2 separate regions of the Homo sapiens genome follow, and region 1 is linked to region 2. The links come from fine-mapping of genetic effects on plasma protein levels. Region 2 holds a variant in brackets. A gene starts in the other region. All regions are shown on their forward strands.

Region 1 (2,905 bases), not on the chromosome of region 2:
TGGTCAGGGATTCAGGGTAGTCAGGGCTCCTGGGAGGAGAGTCAGGGCATGGGGGTGGGCTGAGAAGGCGGGATCAGTGCTCCTAGGGTTGGGGTTACAGCGCAGGGGCGCCATCAAGGCTTCAAGAGCTGGGTTATGGCTAGAGGCAGTCTCAGAAGGTGGGACCAGGGCTTCTGGGGCGGAGTCAGGGCTCTGGGGTGAGCTCTGGAGGTGAGACTGGTGCCATCGCGGTGCAAAGCCACGGTCAGGAGGGGTTCAACAGAGGAGTCTAGGCTCATAGCAGTAGGATCGGGTCCTTCGGGGTGAATTAAAGCTCAGGGGGTGGAGTTGTTGCTGGGAGCAAGGATCGGGTCACTTGTCTGCGCAGACTGATGCTCAAAGAGTCGGTCCTGCGCCGAGTCACTCCTATCCTCTCCCAGCCTTGCCCACAGTCACACCAAGCCACAAGCCCATGCACACCAAAACACCGTTTTATAGTCCTGTGAGGTGAGTTCCTTGGGGATGGGAGAGGGGGATCTCAGGACTGAAGACCCAGGAAGCAGGCACAGATTCCCAGCAATGGATCACGCCCCAGGAAGCACAATCTCCTGCACCCTCGGCTTCCCCTGTCCCCATATCATCATTACACTGTTGTCACTCCACCAGATATTCAGAGGCACAAACTGTCAGAGTCTCACAGGTACAACCACACACCCAGGCACACTGCCACACACAAATTTACCACGATACAAGGAGTTGCAGGGGCACAGCCATGGGGGACGGATAACACGGTACCGTCTCACAGGCAGCTTTGCAGTCACAAGCAAGAGGACACTGAGTCACACCTGAACATTAACAAACACTGTGCCCCCAAGCACGGACAGACACACACACGCATACTCAGATACCTGCGACACCAAGGATGAGGTACCCCAGGAACCAGCCCCAGGGATTTCCTGCTGTGGCCATCACGTCAGCACCTGGGGATGAGGACTGAGACTTAGCCGTGTCTGGGGATCTTCAGCCCAAGTCTCTCCATCCCTCTCTTTGTCCCTCCCTTTCTTCCCTCTGGGACGTTATTAGGTAGGCAAGAGCCTAGACCATCTACCCCCTCTCCCATCCATGGACCCAGAACCTAGAGAGACAGATTTAGAGACTGAGAGAGAAAAAGAGAGAGAGAGATGGGAAAAGAGAGAGAGAGAGAGAACTAGGTAGAAAGGAAAGTTTAGAGAAAGCATCTAGCCATCTGTGAATGGGGAGAGATGGTGTCTAGCCACCCACAAACAAGCATGGAGGGAAGACACACAGAGAATCAGAGCCGGAGAGACAGAGTGCTTGAGAGATATCCTCAGAGACAGTCTGAGAGTTAGACATGGAGATATAGATTCAGAGAGACAGAGAGACCCCTAACTAGAGACAGTGACTCCTAACTAGAGACAGTGAGAGATCTGTCTAGAGAGATGTGGAGACAGAAGGCACAGAGGCTGAGAATCCAGCGACATGGAGCTGTAGGGAGAGTTGGATCATGAACACTGCAGGCTTTTAGTGGGGGACCACCAGGCCTCTTACCCGGCCACCTCTGGGCTCCTGGATTCCACTGCTGGGCTGAGCTCCAGCCTGCTGCCTCCCGCAGGGGCCTCCTTGGGGCTTATAAGCATCCTCAGCCTGGGCTGGCCTGCCCCCAGGGGATGTGTTCCAGGGGTCAGGTGCTGCAAACTTCCAGCTCAACTCTCTCAGGCTGCCTCAACTCTGACCAGGCAGTGGTTGGGGGCCCAGAAGGGGCTGGCAGCAGGGTCTAGGGACCCAGGGAGGAGACCCCTGCCCAGATCCTAGACTCCACTCTCCTTTTTCTTTCTCTCTCTCTCTCTCATTCTTTCTCTTTTCATGTTCTTATTCTCTCTCATGAGATACCTCTCTCTTGCCTGTATCTCTCATTTTCTCTTTCTCTTCTTCTTTCTTTCTCTCATTCTCTCTCTCATTATTTTTCTCGTGTTTTCTTTCATTTCCTCTCATTCTCTCCTGTTCTCTCTCATGTTCTTTCTCTTTTTAAATTAAATCTCTCTCTCTCTCTCCCCTCCTCCTTCATCCCTCTCTTTCTGTGCTTCTCCAGCAAATTTCCCCAGGTTCGTATCCAGCCTACATCACGAACTATTTTTGGAACCTTGGGCAAGTGACTGCACCCCTGTGAGCCTGTTTTTCCAACTGTAAAACTGGAGTGACCATTATGCCCCATTTCCCAAGTGGATTCAAAGAGGTAATTCAGGGAAAGGCACACAGTGCCAGGCACATTGTAGGCTCTCGGTGAGCGGGAGAACTAAAAAGTCTTCGCTCAGTGAAAAGCAGCTGAGTGCCTACCACACTCCGAGCTCTGCGGCAGGTGCTGGGGCCACAGGAGGAACCAGCAAAGTCCTCGTCACTGGGGATCGCGTCCTACCCGGGGGCACAGACCATAAAGGAAAACTGCAGGGACCAGCATATAAGGTGGTGGTCGGGGAGACTCAGAGAAGGGGAACATTTAAGCTGAGATCCCAGGGAAGAGGAGGAGGAGGGTCGCCGCAGCAGGGGCGGTTGCGGGGTGCAGGGGAGAACTTGGCTCCAGCCAGAGGAGGGCAGGGCGGGTAGGAGGGCAGGGCGGGTAGGAGCGCAGACCGGGAACCGGGCGGGCCTGCAGGAGTTTACGTACCAGGATTAAGGAGCTTGGGTTTTACTTAAGTGCAATGGATTTTAAGCACGAGGATGGAGTGACATAATCTTATTTACTTTTTAAAAACTTCCAGCTTGGAGAGTGATGGTGGGGGCGGGGCGGGGGGCAGTGGCAACAGCCCAGGTGGGAGGTGACGGGGTCAAGGGAGAAGAGAGGTGAATGGACACGGGGTCCCCTCTGCATGTGGAGCCAAGTTACTGCCCGATGGATGGAAAGTGGGGG
Region 2 (2,905 bases):
AACCCAGGTGACGATGCCCTCTCAGCCAACACTGCCAACCTGACCCTGTCATCCCGATTGACAGCGCCACTTCAGGTGGCTGGGTGACTAAAGGGCTTGTCTTGGTGGGGTCTCCCACCCCTCCAAGACCCATTCTGCACAGTCCCTCCAGGGTTTGGGCAGGAGATGGCCAATCATGCGCCCACCTCTCCAGTGCTGCCTGCAGTCAGCTCGGCCTCCCCGACCTGCAGCCCCAGACTCTGCTCTCCCAGCACTGACTCACTCCTGCCTGGGAGGGGAATGCAGCATTCATGCTGTGTGTCCTGGTATTGGGAGGTTTCTGGGAAGGGCAGAGGATAAATGTGGCCCTGCCTGCTCCCAGGTATACCTAGGACCACCTGGCCAGATCCGCTCCCAGACGGCCTTGGACTGCTTGCATTTCCCCGGAGAAAAAGGGGTTAATAAATGGGCCATCCTTTCCTGAGCTCTGGGTATACTACCAGTCACAGAACGTCAGAGCTGGAAGAAGCCTTAGAGCTCAACTTCTTCAAGCCCCTCACTTTACAGATGAGGAAATGGAGGTGGTCCAGAGAGGGTCTGGGATTCCCAAGGTCACACAGCCCAGAAGAGATGGGGCTGGGTTAAGAACTCGAGTCTTCCACCTTTCTGTTCAAGGCTGTTTGTCTACCCAGAGGAAGGAGGCACTGCTGAATGGCTATGGCCTGGCTAAGAAGGTGATTAGTCAGTAGGGTGTGAAAATTCTACTTCAAGGGGTTCGGATTGGTGATCATGGGGATTGGCATGGCTGGGTTCCCGTCCAAGGTGTGGGCAGAGCTTCTACCAAACTTCAACATGGAGGGCTGACTTGAAGCTCCCTGTCCCCCTCACTCTTGCCCCAAGAAAAGAGGCCAAAGCAAGAGCAGATTCCCTAGGCAAGAGCAGCAGCACAACTAGGAAACCCCAAAGCCCATGCTCCGACAGGTGGCCCTTCACAGGGGGCAGCGGGACAGGCATCTTGAAGGGCATATGTCCTCGGAAGCTCCGAGCCTGTTTTCTGTAGTTTATAGTTAGAGCTCTATTTTGTTATGGTTTTTTAAACTTTTAAGTCCTGCTCTATTTTCCTGGGCAGGTTTATGTTGATGTTTACCCACTACAATTTTTTAAAAATATAAGCTCACATGCCTTTTCCCTGCCACAGCCAAACCCCCACTGCACCCTACCCACCCACCCCTAGCCCAGGTCAGCTTTCCTGGAGCTGGCTAATGAAAGCCTCCTCACCTCTTCCCAACCCTTACAAGCAAGGGTGCTAGGGGCTCAGCTATACGACCATTCTCCCTGACAGGGAGTCCAAACTTGGCCTAGCATCCCTCCTGGCCCCCCTCTGGCCACGACTTGGCCTGTGCCTGGTTCTCTATCAGAAAGGGGATGCTGAACAAAACCTCCTTCCAAGTTTTATCCAATTCGTTCCTCATTGCCTCGGGCTGC[G/A]TCAGGGGAAGCAGGGGACAGGTGTCCAGTTGCTGGGCCGAGGGAGGAGCTGGTTTGGCATAGGACCTAACCAGTGAAGCTAGAGGCTACAGCCACTAAACTTGCTTCAGGCCAACGATAGTTACTCACAAGTAAGTACCTTAATGCTAATGAGGTCCACTAAAAAGGGGAGGAAGGCAGACCTCCTGGGAGACCCACGAAGGGTTTTTAGCCAGGGAAAACTGAGCCCCAGGAAAACCTAACCACTGGGCAGGCAGAATTTGTTTGAGGGATAGAACGACAACAAAATAAATGTTCCTGCAGCCTGAGATTTCAGGTAGAGTACTGACTAAGGTTTAATAAGACAATAGGTGACCTGAGGACATGCAAGCTTGTAAAATGCAACAGCCTCCTGCTAGAGTGACTTGTACATGAGCTTGCTTGCAGAAGACTAGATTAGATGTTTCTCAGGATCCCCTCCTGCGCAGGGGTTCTCTGATTTTCGTGTTCTCTGCCCAGATGGGCTGGGGGAGTTGAGAGTGTGCTTATTTTCACTGCGATCATGAGACCACAGTTCTGGGTTATCTCCTCTCATACATCAAGCCCCAGAGGAGGCGGCAAGAGGAACAGCCACAAACAAGTACTTTACCCCACAGCTTAGTGGCCAGTAAACACCCTGGGGACTAGGAAAAGGAACCAACTGTAGGCACCTCTCCAGGGCCTAGGGAGACAAGTGTCCTCTCTTCTGCATACATTTGGGCTCCCCTTACAGAGCCCTTTGCCCTGGCTCTCTGGTCCTTGTTGCTCTAACAGTCCAGATGTACACCCAGCCTCAGGGGGAAGGCAGCTCTCTCCAGACAGAGTCTCAGGGCCCAGCAAGGTCAGGTTATCTGCTTTCATTCAGGGCAACAAATGATACAAATGGTGCCAGGGAGTGGCAAGGCCATGGGGGTAGGTGGGGGTGTCTTTTTCTTTTCATAAAGTAACAACAGACGAGACTGAGGTTAAACATCAGAAAAAAACCTCTGGAATGACCTTCCTCATTCCAGGAGGCCCTGGAATAAGGAAGAGGCTTCTTTCTGAGGGAGCTTTGAGGAATTTTGACAGCTGTTGACATGGGATTTGGGAAAGGTGAAGCTGTGACTGGAGGGGCAGGAGATGGTCCAAGTGTCCATCCAGAGATGAGACTCTTAGAATCAAAGTGTTCAGCCCAGGAAGTCTTGGAGATCCCACCTTCTGTGGCCCTGCACCTTATGGGAAGCCATTAAGGGGGCTCATCTAGGAATTCTGGTTACAGCCCAGTGCTCATCCCAGCGTATGCTGCCTCTTTAGGGCAGCCCCAAGGGCCAGCCAGCCTGTACTCTGGGCAAGAGCCCAAAATGGCTAGGAATGTTTGACTCCCTTAATCTCTTCCCCAGCTACAGAGGAATCTTTTCTCTGCCTGGTCTCAGAATGGGACTGC

Direction of the effects. Alleles are on the strand shown, and positions count from the first base shown. The strength of an association depends on the size of the effect and on how common the allele is.
For the plasma level of the protein whose gene starts at base 1,605 in region 1, allele G in region 2 goes with a higher level than allele A (weak association).

Evidence for each region. A credible set is the group of variants that fine-mapping cannot tell apart. PIP is the chance, under the fine-mapping model, that this variant and not a neighbour inherited with it causes the effect. The UK Biobank Pharma Proteomics Project read protein levels with antibody pairs (Olink). The fine-mapping took linkage between variants from a reference panel, not from the people measured, so its PIPs are less certain.
Region 1: it holds the start of KLK4, and the variant in region 2 is the best candidate, but not a certain one, in a credible set for the plasma level of the KLK4 protein (UK Biobank, PIP 0.52).

The regions. Positions count from the first base shown.
Region 1 is chr19:50,909,791-50,912,695 of GRCh38, forward strand. It overlaps KLK4 (kallikrein related peptidase 4), which reads right to left and starts at 1,605. Exons shown (of 6, transcript NM_004917.5): 1 at 1,549-1,605; 2 at 888-959. The coding sequence starts at 948.
Region 2 is chr1:205,074,495-205,077,399 of GRCh38, forward strand. It overlaps CNTN2 (contactin 2), which reads left to right. Exons shown (of 23, transcript NM_005076.5): 23 at 1-2,905. Among named protein-coding and RNA genes, the nearest start is that of TMEM81, 8.5 kb to the right of the region's middle. RefSeq lists enhancers at 660-804, 722-866, 1,172-1,316 and cis regulatory regions at 732, 794, 1,244. The variant G/A (reference allele first, on the strand shown) is at 1,465.